2 separate regions of the Homo sapiens genome follow, and region 2 is linked to region 1. Evidence: fine-mapped expression QTL. A gene starts in region 1. The other region holds a variant in brackets. All regions are shown on one strand. Distances are between the middles of the regions.

The links. PIP is the estimated chance that this variant, and not a neighbour inherited with it, causes the effect.
Region 2: its variant is fine-mapped to the expression of BAZ1B in whole blood (TOPMed, PIP above 0.99).

What each region holds. Positions count from the first base shown.
Region 1 is chr7:73,518,905-73,527,233 of GRCh38, forward strand. It overlaps BAZ1B (bromodomain adjacent to zinc finger domain 1B), which reads right to left and starts at 3,389. Exons shown (of 20, transcript NM_032408.4): 1 at 2,923-3,389. The coding sequence starts at 3,029. RefSeq lists silencers at 2,633-3,512, 3,863-4,002 and enhancers at 3,573-3,732, 6,816-6,885.
Region 2 is chr7:73,440,045-73,448,373 of GRCh38, forward strand. BAZ1B (bromodomain adjacent to zinc finger domain 1B) reads right to left here. Exons shown (of 20, transcript NM_032408.4): 16 at 7,220-7,335; 17 at 3,940-4,085; 18 at 2,681-2,784; 19 at 2,137-2,509; 20 at 362-1,649. The coding sequence ends at 2,152. Among named protein-coding and RNA genes, the nearest start is that of FZD9, 10 kb to the left of the region's middle. RefSeq lists an enhancer at 2,576-3,546. The variant G/T (reference allele first, on the strand shown) is at 4,109.

The DNA of each region.
Region 1 (8,329 bases):
CGCTGCTTGTAGCTCCAATTCCTGCCTAAAACCTATCTTGACTTAAATACAGTCAGTGTCACATCAAGAACTGATTCTGATAAAGTTAGTGTTTTCCAAGATCTAGTGTCCTGCCTGTGGGAATACCTTAGGAAGTAATGTACCATACAAAGCTACAGTACAATCAACATAATCACCAATATTTAACACCTAGTCATTAAATGTGTGCATTACTCACAACTTCCACTAAGTTTAATGAAGATTCACAATATACTCCAAGAACATACCAACATACAGCTTTAAGTCAGTAAAATATCACACAAAGTTCTGTGATACATGCAATCAAAAGGTAGGTATTAAAAGAAAATTAAAATATCAAGTCCCATTAAAAACATAATTGTAAATATAAGTTGAGAACTGGGAATACTACTTCAAAGGCAGCTGTTACCTAACCACATATTTGTTCTCCTCTATGAAACCACTAATAGCCTAATAAAGAAATATGCCAATCTGCCAACCATACAGTACAATTGTTTAAAAACCATCCTCAAAGTGCTTCCACTTGCAGAAATTCCCGAAAGAGCAATTTCCCCCCAATATATAATATGTTTTAAGACTTCTTTTGTTAAAACAGTTTTAAATGCTGTTATGGGAAATTAAAAAATGAAGAATGTTTATTAAATACATACCACTTAAAATGTTTCCGGTTTCAGTTTTAAATTGTTACCATCAAAACTCTTCATATATATATTTCAATTTCATTCATTCAATAATATGAAAAAGCCTGCGTTGCCAGTCCTAAATTAACTTCCTACAGCCATTTTTTACATAGCTCAGTACCTGAAATATACTTAGAAATTGTCTCTTCTCTATGGCATGTTTCTTATACTCTGCTAGAACCAGACCTGAGAAAGTATCATCTGAAAGTGTGTGAGCATCCATCAACGGCTCAAAACATTAATGACATTGGAAAAGTATATGTCGGATTCTCACAAGTTGCTACTCCACTGCCGATTCGAATGTATTAAAAAGTAGGGTACTGGCCAGGCGCGGTGGCTCACGCCTGTTAATCCCAGTACTTTGGGAGGCCGAGATGGGCGGATCACCTGAGGTCAGGAGTTTGAGACCAGCCTGGCCAACATGGTAAAACCCCATCTCTACTAAAAACACAAAAAGTTAGCCGGGCGTGGTGGCACGCGCCTGTAATCCTAGCTACTCAGGAGGCTGAGGCAGGAGAATCACTTGAACCCTGGAGGCGGAGATGGCAGTGAGCCCAGATCGTGCCACTGCACTGCCACCTGGGTTAACAAGAGGGAAACTCCGTCTCAAAAAAAAAAAAAAAAAAAAGTGGGGTACTTCGGTATAATGCAGTATTTGGTAGAGCTAGTGGAACTTCTCCAGAACATTCCAAGTCTTCACAGGACAAGAAAAAAACCAGATCACCACCCCTCCACTTTAAAGTGCCTTACCTTATACCATAATGACAAAAAAGTGAGGTAATATTTAAATTAATTGAAAGTGAAGGAGTAACATTCCACCTTCTTCTGTTGATTGACTTACAGGGATGAGGTAGGAAGAGCGGTGGATTCTACTCCTCTTTCATCATTTGACCTTCAACAAGTCAACCTCCACTCTCTGGGCCAACTCAGCAAACCAAGCCCGAGGACCCGACCACCTCCAAGATCCACTTCAGCTCCAAGATGCTACAGCTCTATTTCTCCAAGAGCCTTCCTCCAGCATGGACTGATTTTCCAGGCCCCTTTGTGTGTATACTCCCCACAAAGGGACACTCACAAATTGCACTCCAACAAGAATGAGATTATCCTCTAAAGTACTGCGTTAAAGTGAGGATCAGGGAGAAATGAAATAACTCTGAGAGACACTTCCTCCTATACAGAAGCAAGCAAGAAACTGAGAAATGAAGTCCTTCCGAACAGAAGGGGCTGAGAAAACTCATAACACATTAGCCTTCACTCTTAAAGCTTTCAGTCACCAAAGAAATGCTTGATTCCGAAATCGTTTTTGTTTTTTTTACAGATAAGCCTCAAAAACGATTCTTCTGGCACCCATTAAAAAAAAGCAAATAAAAGCTGCACAACTTTTCACTAAAAGATAATGCTTATGCAAGAAATCTTAGTCATGACGAGAGGATGCTTCCTTTGTAAAACATCCAATTTCATGTTCCTAAAATACAACATAAAAACTTCACGTCTTGGTTTTTTTGTTTGTTTAATTTTAACAAATACCAATCTCCTTCTAAACCTTCAAAATTTCAAACCTGTGTCTGCCCAGGGAAGGCAGGCATCAGCTCCTCCACAGGCAGTTTCCTTCCCTCCCTTTCCTCTAAGCGGGGAATCTCATTCCTAGTTTTCTGCCCCAGGGTCCTGTCAGTTCATCCCCGGCCTAAAGTCCCCTCGGGAGACGAAAAAAACGCCAAGTATCCCCGCAGAGATCGGGGTAAGACGCAGTTGAGTCTTGCACACGCCGCATCACGAGGCCGCGCGAGTACAATTTCAAAACTTAAGCTGCAGGTTTCATTTAAATTTTTAAAAAATTTTTGTAAAAATTAAAGGAGAAAACCTAGCTCCCCCTCCCCACGCCTCCTCCTCCCTCTCGGGTCCTCAAGGCCTAAAGCCAACCCGGGGAAGGTAATGGGGATGGGGGATGCGCTCCTCGCCGGCGAGGCCCCGGGACAAAGTGCGGGGCCCCGGGGGCGGCCGAAGCGGGCCCTTCTCCTTCCAGGGCCGGTGCGCGCCCCCCGCCGGATCCCCTGGAAGGATCGGCGGGCGCAGGCTGAGACTCAGCCTCCAGGCCCGCGAGCGGCCGGGGCGCGCTGACAGCTGCCCCGGGCCGGGGATGCGCGGCTGACCTGGTCTCGCGAGCCCCAGGCCCTACCCCGGCCCAGCCCGGCCCAGCCCGGCCCGCGCGGCTGGAAAAGGATACTCCCGGGTGCGGAAGGCCTCCTGAGTGTGCGGGATGGTGAAGAGCGGCTCCTCTCCGGGCAACGGCTTCACCAGCGGGAAGGGCTTGCGGCCCAGGAGCGGCGCCATCGCGGCGGCGGCGGTGGGGACTGGCGGCTGCTGGGGCCGGCCCCGCGGCGCAGCACTAGGCCCCGCGGCCCGGAGCGAGCGCCAGGCGCCCGGGGGTGGGGTGGGGGAAGGGAGGGGTGAGAGGGCGGCGCGAACTCCGGCTCCCTCACCGCCGGCGCGGCCGCGCGACAGTCATGGAGCGGAACGCCACGGCGCAGAGCTCCCGCGCACACCGCCGCGCCTCCCAGCAGCCCCCCGCCGACCTCCGCTTCGGGTCCCGGCGGCCGGCAGTCACGACTCCTCCTCAGCAGCACCGGAGGAAATTATTGAAAAATGGCGGGAGATTCCCCTCCTCCCCCGGGCCCGGCCAACGCACACACTAACTTGCTCCCCCGTGGCGCCGGTGGCGAATGCTCCAATAGGCGGAGAGCTGGTCAGCGCTCACAGCCTATTGGCTCGGAGGAGCTGCCGCTCCGCGCCTGGGTCCCGCCCCCCTGCCCCTGTCGCGTAGTTGGGTTGCAGCGCACTAGAGGGCAGTCTGAAGAGGTGAAAGGTCACGTTATGTAAGCGCCCGTGATAGGCGTGCGGGCCTCCGACGGCAGAGTTAAAAGTGGGGGACAGCGGGGGATGGAGAGGACGAGAACTCAAAGAGGTCAAGCCGGAGAAGCCCCTCGCATATACAGATACTGCGCCATCTGTCACCGACGGCGACACCGACATCCGGGCACCACTGTCCGTGTGGTGCGCCGGAGGGGGAGGGTGAGCGCGCGGCCAGGGGCTTTGTCTTTCCTCTTGGGCGCCTCCCCCTTCTTAAAGGCGCCGTGCTCGGCCACGCCCGGGGATGCGCGGGTGGGGCTGGGCTGCAGGGAGGGGTTGGCGGGAAGTGGCCCCGGGAGCTTACCCTACCAAAGGTTCTGCGGAAGGACAACGTGGGGGCCAGCTTTGCTCACCCCAGAGTTAACTTCTGGGCGGGAGTGTGGTTGAGATCTGGGTAGAAGTATACTGCTTGTTTCTAGGGGCTGGCTGGAAAGTAGAATATAGAAGCTTCTTTGGAGAAATAGATTAAAAGACGTACTTAGTTTTTTGGTTTTTGGTTTTTGTTTTTTTTGAGACGGAGTCTCGCTCTGTCGCCCAGGCTGGAGGGCAATGGCGCGATATCGGCTCACCGCAACCTCCGCCTCCCGGGTTCAAGAGATTCTCCTGCCTCAGCCTCCCAAGTAGCTGGAATTACTGGCGTGCACCACCACGCCCGGCCAATTTTGTATTATTAGTAGAGACGGGGCTTCTCCATGTTGGTCAGGCTGGTCTCAAACTCCCGACTTCAGGTGATCCGACCGCCTAGGCCTCCCAAAATTATCATTATTTTTTTTTTTGAGACGGAGTTTCACTCTTGTTGCCCAGGCTGGAGTGCAGTGGTGCAGTCTCGGCTCACTGCAACCTCTCCCTCCCGGGTTCAAGCTATTCTCTTGCCTCGGCCTCCCGAGTAGCTGGGACTACAGGTGCGCGCCACCACACCCGGCTATTTTTTGTATTTTGTAGAGACGGGGTTTCACCATGTTGGTCAGGCTGGTCTCGGACTCCTGATCTCAGGTGATCCACCCGCCTCGGCCTCCCAAAGTGTTGGGATTACAGGCGTGAGCCACCACGCCCTGCCAGAGCTGTGACTCTGGCTTTTTTTTTTTTTCTCCCATGATACTCAGCACCTGGCTCGGAACATTGTAGGTGCTAGTGAATACTATTTGAATGAATTGGATCTACCTTTTATTTTTTATTTTTTTTGTAGAGACAGGGTCTTACTTTGTTGCCCAGACTGGTCTCGAACTCTTGGCCTCAAGCAATTGTCCCGCCTCTGCCTCCCAAAGTGCTGAGATTAGGCGTGACCCACTGTGCCCAGCCAGGATGTCTCTTTAATAGGTACGTCTGGGCCGGGCGCAGTGGCTCACCCCTGTAATCCCAGCACTTTGGGAGGCCGAGGCGGGCGGATCACGGGGTCAGGAGATGGAGACCATCCTGGCTAACACGGTGAAACCCCGTCTCTACTAAAAATACAAAAAATTAGCCAGGCGTGGTGGCGGGTGCCTGTAGTCCCAGCTACTGGGAAGCTGAGGCAGAATGGCGTGAACCCGGGAGGTGGAGCTTGGAGTGAGCGGAGATCGTGCCACTGCACTCCAGCCTGGGCGACAGAGCGAGACTCCGTCTCAGGGAGGCGGGGGGGGGGGGGAAATAGGTACGTTTGGTCGGGCACGATGGCTCACGCCTGTAATCCCAGCATTTTGGGAGGCTGAGGCGGGCGCCTCACCTGAGCTCGGGAGTTCGAAACCAGCCTGAGCACCATGGAGAAACCCTGTCTCTACTAAAAATACAAAATTAGCCGGGCGTGGTGGCGCATGCCTGTAATCCCAGCTATTCGAGAGGCTGAGGCAGGAGAATCGCTTGAATCCGAGAGGGGGTGGTTGCGGTGAGCCGAGTTTGTGCTATTGCGCTCCAGCCTGGGCAACAAGAGCAAAACTCCGTCTCAAAAATTATAATAATAATCACAGTTCTATACAAAGTGCAGAATAAGAAAATAGCATCAACTATTTTAATGCTATTAAATGGGGAGCATTTCAGTTGCTTCTCCAAGCAGACAACACCCACATCCAGAATTTGTTTGGCTTTCCAGTACAATCAAAAACACACTCATTAAGTTATCTCCCTATTAAACTGTCTCCCTTAGTTTAAAGAACTTCACTTTAAAGTTTCCCAGCCTGTACCTTCCCAGCTGTACCTTCCCAGCCTGTCCTTCAACGGGGCTAGACTGCGAGGTGTCTCTAAATGCAGTCTCCTAATGTCAGACCTCTATCTCCTTTTCTTCTCACCTCAAGGATCTCCTATCCCCACTAGGAGGTCTAGGTCAAAAGCTACCTCTGTGAAGTTTCCTCTGATCACCTAGCAGAAAAGATCTCGGTTCCTTTTCCTTGAGGCAGTAGACTTTTCTCCCAAGAACAGCAGGAGAAGCCTTGCCAGAGCACATAGCGTTTGAGTTAATTGAGAAAAGAAAAGAGTTCTCTAGACAGAGAAGGAGGGACGAACATTATAGACAGAACAGCAGAGTGAAGCCTGGAAGTTCAAGATCGTGTGCCCAAAATGTGAGGATTTGAGGCAGAATATATCAGATGAGAATGGTAAAGGAAGTGACCATCCTGATATATTCTGTAATGGCTGAATCGGAGTGACTACTTAGAAGGGAATTACAGGGCTAGGCATGGTGGCTCACACCTGTAATCTCAGCACTTTGGGAGGCTGAGGAGAGAGGATACTTTGCGGCCAAGAGTTTGAGACAAGTCTAGGCAACATGGCAAAACCCCGTCTCTGCTAAAAATACAAAAATCAGCCGGGCGTGGTGGCGCATACCTGTAATCCCAGCTACTTGGGAGGCTGAGGCAGGAGAATTGCTTGAACCCGGGAGGCAGAGGTTGCAGTGAGCTGAGATGGTGCCCAGTCTGGGCGATAAAGCGAAATTCCATCTCAAAAAAAAAAAAAAAAAAGCAAAAGAAAACAATTTGATATTTCAGAACAGCATCTCACTTTGCACATGTGAACTGGGCACCATAATCATTTCAGCGCTTGGGTCCGCTGTGGGCTAGAATCCATTGCTGGGATTGGTGAAGATGGGATCTGAGATGGGAAAATCGGTAATGGGCTTGGTTTCAGCCATGTGAACTCCAGGTACCCTGAAGAGCCATCCAGAACACAGCCGGAAATTCTGAGGGAGGAAGTGGGAGCTGGAGGTGGGGCTTGGTGGTCACAGTACAGAAACTTGAGCTTCAGGAACCATATAGAGCTTATGAAGAGACCCCAAATAAAGAACAGTGCTCATCTCGGGGAAATGGATTTATGGTTTTTGCGTTTTGTCTCATTTTGAGACAAGATCTTGCACTGTCGCCCAGGCTGGAGTGAGTGCAGTGGGGGATCACAGCTCACTGCAACCTCGACCTCCTGGACTCAAGATCCTCAGCCTCCAGAGTAGCTGGGACTACAGGCACACACCACCATGTCCTGCTAAGTATTTTCTTTTTTGTAGAGACGGTGACGGGGATGGGGTCTCACTGTGTTGCCCAGGCTGGCCTCAAGCCCCTGGCCTCAAGGTTTCCTCCCTCCTCAGCCTGTCAAAGTGCTGGGATTACAGGCATAAGCCACCGCACCAGGCCTGGAATTACAATTTTTTTTCTTTTCTTTTTTTTCACCCCTCCTTTTTCACTGGAATTACAATTGATGTGATTTTCTTCTTTATATTTTTCTATATTTTATGATTATGTTTTTATAATGACTACATTATTAGTTTGTTTTTGAGATAGGGTCTCACTCTGTTGCCCAGGCTGGAGTGCAGTTGCACAATCTCAACTCACTGCAACGTCCACCTCCCAGGCTCAAGTGATCCTCCCACCTCAGCCTCCCAAATAGCTGGGACCACAGGCACACAACACCATGCCCAGCTCTTTTTTTGTGTTTTTGGCAGAGACAGGGTCTCACCATGTTGCCCAGGATGGTCTCAAATTCCTGAGCTCAAATGATCCACCCACCTAAGCCTCCCAAACTGCCAGGATTACAAGCGTGAGCCACCACTCCTGGCTCTTTTTCTTTCTTTCTTTTTTAAAATACATTTTAAAAACTATTTTAGGCCGGGCAGGGGTGGATCATGCCTGTAATCCCAGCACTTTGGGAGGCCGAGGCGGGCAAATCACGAGGTCAGGAGTTGGAGACCAGCCCGGCCAATATGGTGAAACCCTGTCTGGCTCTACTAAAAATATAAAAATTTAGCTGGGTGTGGTGGTGTGTGCCTGTAGTCCCAGCTACTCGGGAGACTGAGGCAGGAGAATCGCTTGAACCCAGAAGGCGGAGGTTGCAATGAGCCGAGATCGCGCCACTGCACTCCTGCCTGGGTGACAGAATGAGACTCCATCTAAAAAAAAAAAAATATATATATATATATATATATATATTTTAATAAAGACACGTCTCACTATATATTGCCTGGGCTATTCTCAAACTCCTGCCTCCTGGGCTCAAATGATCCTCTCACTCTGGCCTCCCAAAGTGCTGTAATTACAGTCATGAGCCACCGCACCTGGCCCTGGTTTTATTTCTCTTAATGGCTTCGCCTTCCTGTTTAGCCCACAGGCTCAGCCTCTGACCTCTCTCTTGAGCTCCACAGCCTCAGGGGCAACTAGATAACATCCATTCTAGCAGCCTAAAATCTTGAACTGTTTCCCCTTCCTGTCTTTCCACAGCACCTGCTTCAGGCCTTTATTATTTCTGCCCAAAATTGCTATGATACTGAC
Region 2 (8,329 bases), 79 kb before region 1:
GCCACTGCATTCCAGCCTGGGTGATGGAGTGAGACTGTCCCCACCGCCCCCCTCCCCAAAATTTTTTTTCCCTGAGAAAGGTTTTAAAATGGCAGAATTTCCCCATAGTGAAGGCTTAAAAACCTATTTTCACCGTAATTCCTAGTTTCAAATGAAGTTTTTCAGGGTTTTAGACGGAGACAGGGCCAGGAGAGGCTTGGAGGGAGTACTTCTTTCTGTGGTTAAGAACACTGAGAGGCCCTGACTCTGGAGGCCAAGCCTTCAGAGGACCCGGCTCCAAGGGTCAGTGGGAAAGCAGCACTCGGGACAGCACTACCCACCCCCACCCACCAAGAAAGAGCACAAACAGCCACCAGAGTGGTTTCTTCTTTATAAACACAAGTACATGAGGTTTATTTGAAATTCCAATTTATTACAAGTTCACCCTTTAATGGGGCCCTTCCTCTTTGAAGACAATAAAAAAAAAAAACAACAACAAACAATTCAGGTGTCACTGAAGTGGGAACACAGGATTCTCACTATGAACAAGAACAGACTGGATGTAGGAGGCAGGGGAAGCTGGCGGTGGTGGGGTTATGAAGCTGTGATGTCAGTGCCAACTCCATGCCTATAGAAGGGACGGTAAACTACCCAGCAGCCCTGGAGCAATCCTCGTCGTCCTTGGGCAGGAGGACGGAGGAAGCAGAGGCCACATTCCGCAGTTTAAAATTAAGAGGCTTGATTCTCATGTTCTAGGAGCTGCAGTCCCCTTGGTGGACTTTAAATAGGTACAGAAGAGCTTGGGTGCTCAAAATTTCCAAATTCAAAGGTGATAAAAAAGAAAAACCCTGTTTTGTACTTTTATCAAAATCCATCATAAAAGGGAAAGAAGACTACAAAGTTTTGCCTAAATATAACAACTAGAGCTAGATTTGTTGTGGGGGAAGGGGCTCTCAGAGCTTCTCTGCCGCTCTCTCCTCCCACCCCCCACCGACACTGACCACTGGAATCTTCAGGTTCTTGAGGAGTTCCAAGGCTGAGGTCAGAACGGGCATGGGAGGCAGCAGACACAGCACTGCCCTGCTCCCCCTCCAATGTTGCTGCTTGCCTCAATGAGCCTCCAACCCAACTGCTCTAGAGGAGAGTGGATGGGCTGAAGGAGAAGCCAGGGAAGTTAGAGCAAACACATTATCATAGAAACTGTACTGTACATGTGCTAAAGCAAGATGTCAGGAGTATCTTACAAGATGTTCTTTATACAATATCACTGCTGAAACAAGCAACTTTTAATAACTAGAAAAGTCAATTTAAAAAAAAAATTAAACATTTAAATTCTTCCTGCTTTTCTTCTGCTCCCCTAAGAGCTTGACTGGTATGTGGGTGGGCTGGGCTCCAACACCCCTCTGGCCAGATCCATCAAAGTAAAGGTTATATGCATGATTATAAGCAGGACTCCAGTCTCTAAGTGAAGTGCCTTAGTTTTGTTTTTTTGTTTTTTGTGGTTTTTTTATTTTTTGGGGGGGTGGGAGGAGCTGTCACAAAGAAGGGGAGATTCAGGAATGGCTCCAGGACACGTCCCTTTACTCTGCCAAGATCAACTCAAAAGACCACAACTGTTTCATGATGCTGGTGAATACACAATTCTGTATGGCACTCACTGATACTGTCACCTGAGAGGAAGACGGGGGAAGAGACAGAGTATGGGCTTAAAGAAACAAGACTGTATAATAAATACAGATTAAAAAAGAAAAATCGCCACCATCTCCCCTGTTGGCCTGATTACCCCGATCCTGCTATGTAACACAGCAATCCCTCCCCTGGAGACCAGAGGGGCTTGGCACTGTGGTGGAAGCCAGAGCGAGCAGGCCCTTAGGAAAGAAGGCAGGAACAGGAACTGGCTTCACCAGAAAAGCTAGACCCTCGGACTCCTCCTGGAAACTCTCAGAAGGGAGGGTTATGGCCCTCTTTGTCCCTTCATATTTCTGGACAAAGACCACCAACCCAATATCAAGCCCCATAAAGAGCTTTTAGAAAAACAGCATAAGCTTGGGATGACAGGCGTTTCTGGACTCCCTGTGATCTCTTCCAGGTTCTTGGTCTTCCTCGCTCGCCTCCCTCCCACCCTCCCTAGCTGTCCCCCCACCTCAGCTCCCTTACCACGGCCCTGCCTCTCTACTTCTTCTGTCTTCGTCCCCTGGACTGTCCAACGGCCTCTGGCTCACTGTCCCCTTCATCTTCAGCAAGCCTATCAGGAAACTTCTTGCGCTTCCTGCGGACATATGGGTGGCCAGGAAGGTGTTTATGCAACAGAGCCACTAGACACTGTTCTGTCTTCACCATGCAGCTTAGCACATGGCTGCCACGGCAGTTGTAAACCTCAGCATTGGTAAACACTTGCTTCATGTCAGTAAGAAACTCCTGCACAGAGCGGTAGCTCCCACAGGAACATTTGTTCTGCACTGTCTGAAAGTCCATGGGGTGCGTGATCACATCATAGTAGTCCTCGGCCTCATCTCTGGTCACAGGCTCCCTGTGGAGAAGAACCAAATGGAGAATCTGCACAGCCTTGACGGCAGTGCCCCTGCCACTGAGACACGTCCTGAAAAGCAAGGGCTTGGCTGAGAGCCCCTCAGGGGCTCTGGAAGCTTTTAGAACCAGCCAGGCCACTCCTCTCCCCTGCACCTGAGAACACAGCACTCACCTGAAGGGCCAGCTGAAGCGGTACTTCACGATCTTGTGGAGGATCTCTTCACACTTCTGCAGCTCCAGGCTTTGCCTCCGGGAGCTCCGCTTGGTCTGAAGCACCTGGCAGGAAAGAAAGAACAATGTTATTACAGATTCAAGACAGGAGGAAGAATGGACAGGGCAGAAAATAAGTGTATCTGCTCAAAAAAGGAAGAGAGTTCAACTATTTCCTTGGCGCAGAGGTGCTGAAACCTTCTGATATTCAAGTCAGGGAGCACCCTCGGCCCAGGTGGCAGGCATCTTCCCAGTAGTCCACTCACTCGCCTCCCCCGGGGCCACGGCAATCAAAGCAGCAAAGAGCAGGCAGCGGGGGCCGCCTTTACCAGCAGTCCTGCTGGAGGTCGGCTGAAGGGGGCTACTGTCAACAGGACACTAGCTCTCAGAGAACAGGTGGACCTGGGGTTACAGTGACACCATGGAAGGGCATCAACAAGCCACTGCAGAAAGCAAAACATGCTATCTGGGCCAACAGCAGCCAATTCTGTGGGGGTGGGGTGCCTCTGGTAAGAAAAGCAAGAGGTCCAATTCCCTTCCTGGGCTCTTCCACCGTAGACATGTGAGGGTTAAGTGGCTAAAGAGAAAAGGGGCGGGGCCTCCATTCCAGGTAGCCATAACAAAAGCTGTGATTCACAGCAGAGGCCACAGAGCCCAAGGCTGTGGCAAACCGAGCATCTTCTAATGCCTTATGATCTCCCAAATGGCCTGCCTTAAGCCCCTAACTCCAATTTGATCTGTCAAAACAAGCACCTTTTCAAGAGTTTCTTTTTTGTTCTTTAAAGCTCAAGTGAGATCTAAAAACTACTAAAATTACATTGGTTAAGGAGCAGAGGGGAGGGTAATGTCCCTCCCATAACAACTGTCGACTCAACAGTAAGTGAGGCTCCAGCATTGCTGACATTCCCACAATGAAGACCCAGCCCCTCTGAGCCCACTGGAGACACATGGATACTATTTTTAAATCCTTAATAAGTTGCAGGCTGCCCGCTAACTAGTTTGCAGGCTACAGCAGGGGAATGCCGGACATAGCTGTTCCTGGAGGCCTTGCTGCTTCTGTCTGCGTACAGGCTCACCCATCTGCCTCCCCAGCCTCCCAAGTTTGGTAAGAAGGAGGAGGGGGGAGGCTCCCCTCCCACCTGTTGCCTGATGAATTCCTAATTGCTGGGGTAGGGAATAAGAAACAGAAAGGTTAGAGAAGGGATGATAAATAATTCTCACCAGCTCATCCACCTCAGCATCATCCACAGGTGGTGCCTTGGGCTGAGACCTCCTGGTAGAGTGTGGCTTCTTACCCGGGCGCCGGCCTGACCTTGCTGCAGGGGGGATGACGCTGTGCTTGCCCCGGATGGTCTTTCGAGGTCTCACTGAAAGAAAAACTATGGATTCA[G/T]CAGAGAACAACGGAAGGTGAAGGGAGGAGCATCTTCGAAATGGGGGAAAGGGATGCAGGGAGAATCCTTTTCCTGGACAAGGAAAGCAGTGGCCTCCTTTGGTTTTAAGGTGCTCTTGCTATTTTATCTTGCCTTACCTAACAGGACACTAAAAGGCAGTGGCAGCCGATGAAGAATGGGTGCCTTTCATCCACTGCCAAAGCCCTTCAGAGGGCTAGGTCCTTCAGTACTTCTGTCCTGCCCCGTCCTGCAGTTACTCCCAGCCATAAGGCCCCTGCAGGAATCAACTGTAAACTCTCACTCATGAGAAGCCATTTGCTAATAGGTCAGCCTGGATTTCCCACAGCCCAAGCTCAGCCTGAGCGAGTGGATGTATTTACATGTAAGATGGAACTGGATTGTAAAACAAACCCTATGTTGTAATTCCCAGAGTTATTCTACACTTACCATCAGAATCTTTCCAGAGAAAAGCTGGTACTTCCATGAAGGGCCACAAGGCTCCTCATTAAATACAATTTAGGGCTAGTCCCCTCCATAAGAGCCCTGCCCAGGATCCCCAATGAGAGAATAAAGAATATAGGCCGGGCGTTGTGGCTCACACATGTAATCCCACCACTTTAGGAGGCTGAGGCAGGTGGATCACCTGAGGTCGGGAGTTCAAGACCAGCCTGACCAACATGGTGAAACCCCGTCTCTACTAAAAATACAAAATTAGCAGGGCGTGGTGGCACATGCTGGTAATCCCAGCTACTCAGGAGGCTGAGGCAGGAAAATCGCTTGAACCTGGGAGGCGGAGGTTGCAGTGAGCCGAGATCACGCCACTGCACTCCAGCCTGGGAAACAAGGGTGTAACTCCATCTCACAAAAGAAAAAAAACACACACACACACACACACAAAGGCACTGAGACTACTTGTGTCTCAGGTTTACAACAGGTGCTCACCATCAAGCCAACTGGCATTCCTCAGTGAGCCCTGGGAAACAATGCCATGAGGATTTAGCTCCAGGCTCTCCACCACCTTCCCTTGGGGAGTGGGGAGATGACACTGGACACAGAGGTCTAGGAAGGCAGTGACACGAATAATCCAGAAACACTACTTTCCATTCTATTTCTGGATCACGATAACCCTTTCTTGGCTACTTTAGCGTCTCTAGCTCAAGCCCAGGCTAGTAAGAAAGGGTAAGAATCTGATGCTTAGGTGCTAGAACCTTGAGCTGCACTGGGGAACCACATCTTTGGTGGTCTGAAAGATAGAGTTGACAAAAAGCTCTGAAGTACCAAATACTTCCCAGATCCTTTTGGCAAGTCGAGGCCGTAAAAACTTAGAAAAGCAATTCCTTGGAAAGAGAGCTACAACGTAGAAGTGGAAAGCAATCACTAGCTTACAAATAAACAGAATCAGTATACTACCATATTCAGGATCTGCCCTCAGAGAGATCAGGCGCAGTGGCTCACACTTGTAATCCCAGCACTTCGGGAGGCCAAGGCAGGAGGATCACTTGAACCCAAGAGTTCAAGACCAGCCTGGGAAACATGGCAAGACCCTATCTCTACAAAAAAGCCGGGCATGGTGGCACGTGCCTGTAGTCCCAGCTGCTCAGGAGGCTGAGGTAAGGAGGATTGCTTAAGCCTGAGAGATCGAGGATACAGTGAGCAGTGATCATACCAGTGCACTCTAGCCTGGGCAACAGAGAAAGATACCCATCCCCCGCTCCGCCAAAAAAAATATGTTCCCAAACAAAGGTGTGCCCAAGTCACTGACTCTGACCAACAGAAGAGGATATTCCTGAATGCAGGACTGATGGGCCATTTGTTCACTTACCCTAGGATACCTGAAAAATCAGGCGTAGTGAACAAACAAAAAGAGCCCATACGTATGTGAGAGCTTAAGGTGTCCCACATCACACCTCTGAAGTATGGGGGGGAAAGTGGGAGGACAGGAGAAGACGGGCAAGCCCAAATCATTAGGTTTTGGCAGTCTCACTACAGTAAGAGACTAGTCATGCCAGGCATCCTCTCTCTCACTCCTTATACCAAGTATGACCATTCAGAGCTGCTATGATCTTGGGAACTGTACCACTGCTTCAAAAGCTCATTAGAATTTTGATCTGTGGTCTGTTTTCTACGAACCTGTAAAGAAAAGTGTATTGGCCGGGCATAGTGGCTTATGCCTGTAATCCCAGCACTTTGGGAGGCCAAGGCAGGCAGATCACTTGAGCTCAGGAGTTCGAGACCAGCCTGGCCAACATGGTGAAACTCCATCTCTACTAAAAATACAAAAATCAGCCAGGTGTGGTGGTGGGTGTCTGTATACTCGGGAGGCTGAGGCAGAGACTGAGGTAATCTGAGGTCATACCACTGCACTCCAGCCCAGGCGACAGTGAGACCATCTCAAAAAAAAAAAAAAAAAAAAAAAAGTGTATTTTGGAAAGAGGGAGGCTGCTAAAAGAAAGGCTAGACTGGAGGACATTAGCCACAAACACCAGACTCTCCAACACTCATGAGAAATGAACATGAGAGAATGAGAGTCAATGCGGTGAACACAAAAGATGATGCCTTTTTTCCTACTGGCATCTAGTGAGAACAGATCTGAATCTTCCTAACATCCTTCCACCTAAGCCTTCAAATAATCAGTCGTCTCTTTTCAAACCAGCAAAGCTATAACCCTGCACACTGCAGGGAGGAGAAAATCACTGTAACCAGACAGAAAAAGTCACTCTCTGAAAGCAGCGATAAAACAACAGCCAAAAGAACTGTCAGGAGATGGCAATGGGCCAAGATCTTCCTTCCCCATTGTCCCCATATGCCGAGGAGCTGAGAATCAGCAGCCTTGGCATAAATATACTTGGGACCATGAATTCTACTAAATCTTAGAGCAAGTGGGTTGATGTTACTGAGATCAAGCCACCTTCTCTCCCACCAGGCAGGAAGTTAAACGCCATCTTGGAAACCCATTTAAACCCATGGCAGCTAAGTTACGCCACAGTCACAACACAAGAGAAAAGGAATAGGGCAAGCCGGCCACACTACCTACTGCCAAGCCAGCCTTTCCAAGCGTTCCAAGCTTAGAAGACTGTGAAATCAACTACAAAGGCAGACAAAATACTTACATCGCAAACCAGCCACCTCATAATCTTCTTCCTCCTCCTCCTCTTCTTCCTCCTCCTCCTCTTCATCACTCTCATCATCTTCACTGTCCTCAGAAGCAGACTCTTCAGTATAGTTCCTGTGGGTAGAAAAAATAATGTAGGGAACACAGTTTTAGCCCAAAGTGGTCCTAAGAAGGGCTCAAATCCCACAGGGATCAGGAAACTTCTCTTCACAGACTACATATGTATAACGTATGATAATTCAGGGAGGGAACCTGAATGTAAGCCAGGAGAGTTTTTCATAAAAATGAAAAACCAAGTTTCAACAGCATGCCTCATGCCTCCTTCTGCCAGGCCACAGACAGTTTGGACAAGATACCAAAGGCAACAGAAATTAAGACCAAAATGCAATCCTACCCTTCCCCACACAAAGCAATACAAAACACTGTTTCTTTTGTCTCACAAAAAGAGCCAGATAATGTAATACATCAGTTACTAAAAGCTGTCCCCACCTCTGAGGTAGACTGAAAAGAATAAACAGAGCCCAGACAGGTGTGACTTCACCTTGATGGCCCCCTTCCAGGAGCTGAAACAGCTTGCAGATGACCATAATATCAAAGCAGTGGTAATCCCAGCTCGGAACAGCTGGTCCAAAGCCCCACCATTTCAGAGCAACATGTCTCATCTCTAAGTGCAGCTGGGATGGAGTGCAAAAGAACCTGCTAATACTGTTAAGGTGGGGTCAGGATCAAACAGCTCTGCCCCTTAGAAGGAAGCCCAGGCCGGGCACCGTGGCTCACGCCTGTAATCCCAGCACTTTGGGAGGCTGAGGCAGGCGGATCACCTAAGGTCGGGAGTTCGAGACTAGCCTGACCAACATGGAGAAACCCCATCTCTACTAAAAATACAAAATGAGCTGGGTGTGGTGGCGCATGCTTGTAGTCCTAGCTACTCGGGAGGCTGAGGCAGCAGAATCGCTTGAACCTGGGAGGTGGAAGTTACAGTGAGCCGAGATCGCGCCATCGTACTCCAGCCTGGGCAACAAGAGCGAAACTCCGTCTCAAAAAAGAAGCCCAAGCCAGAGTACCTATAAGCTGCACATTTTACAACCCCAAATTTCAGTGTGGAAAA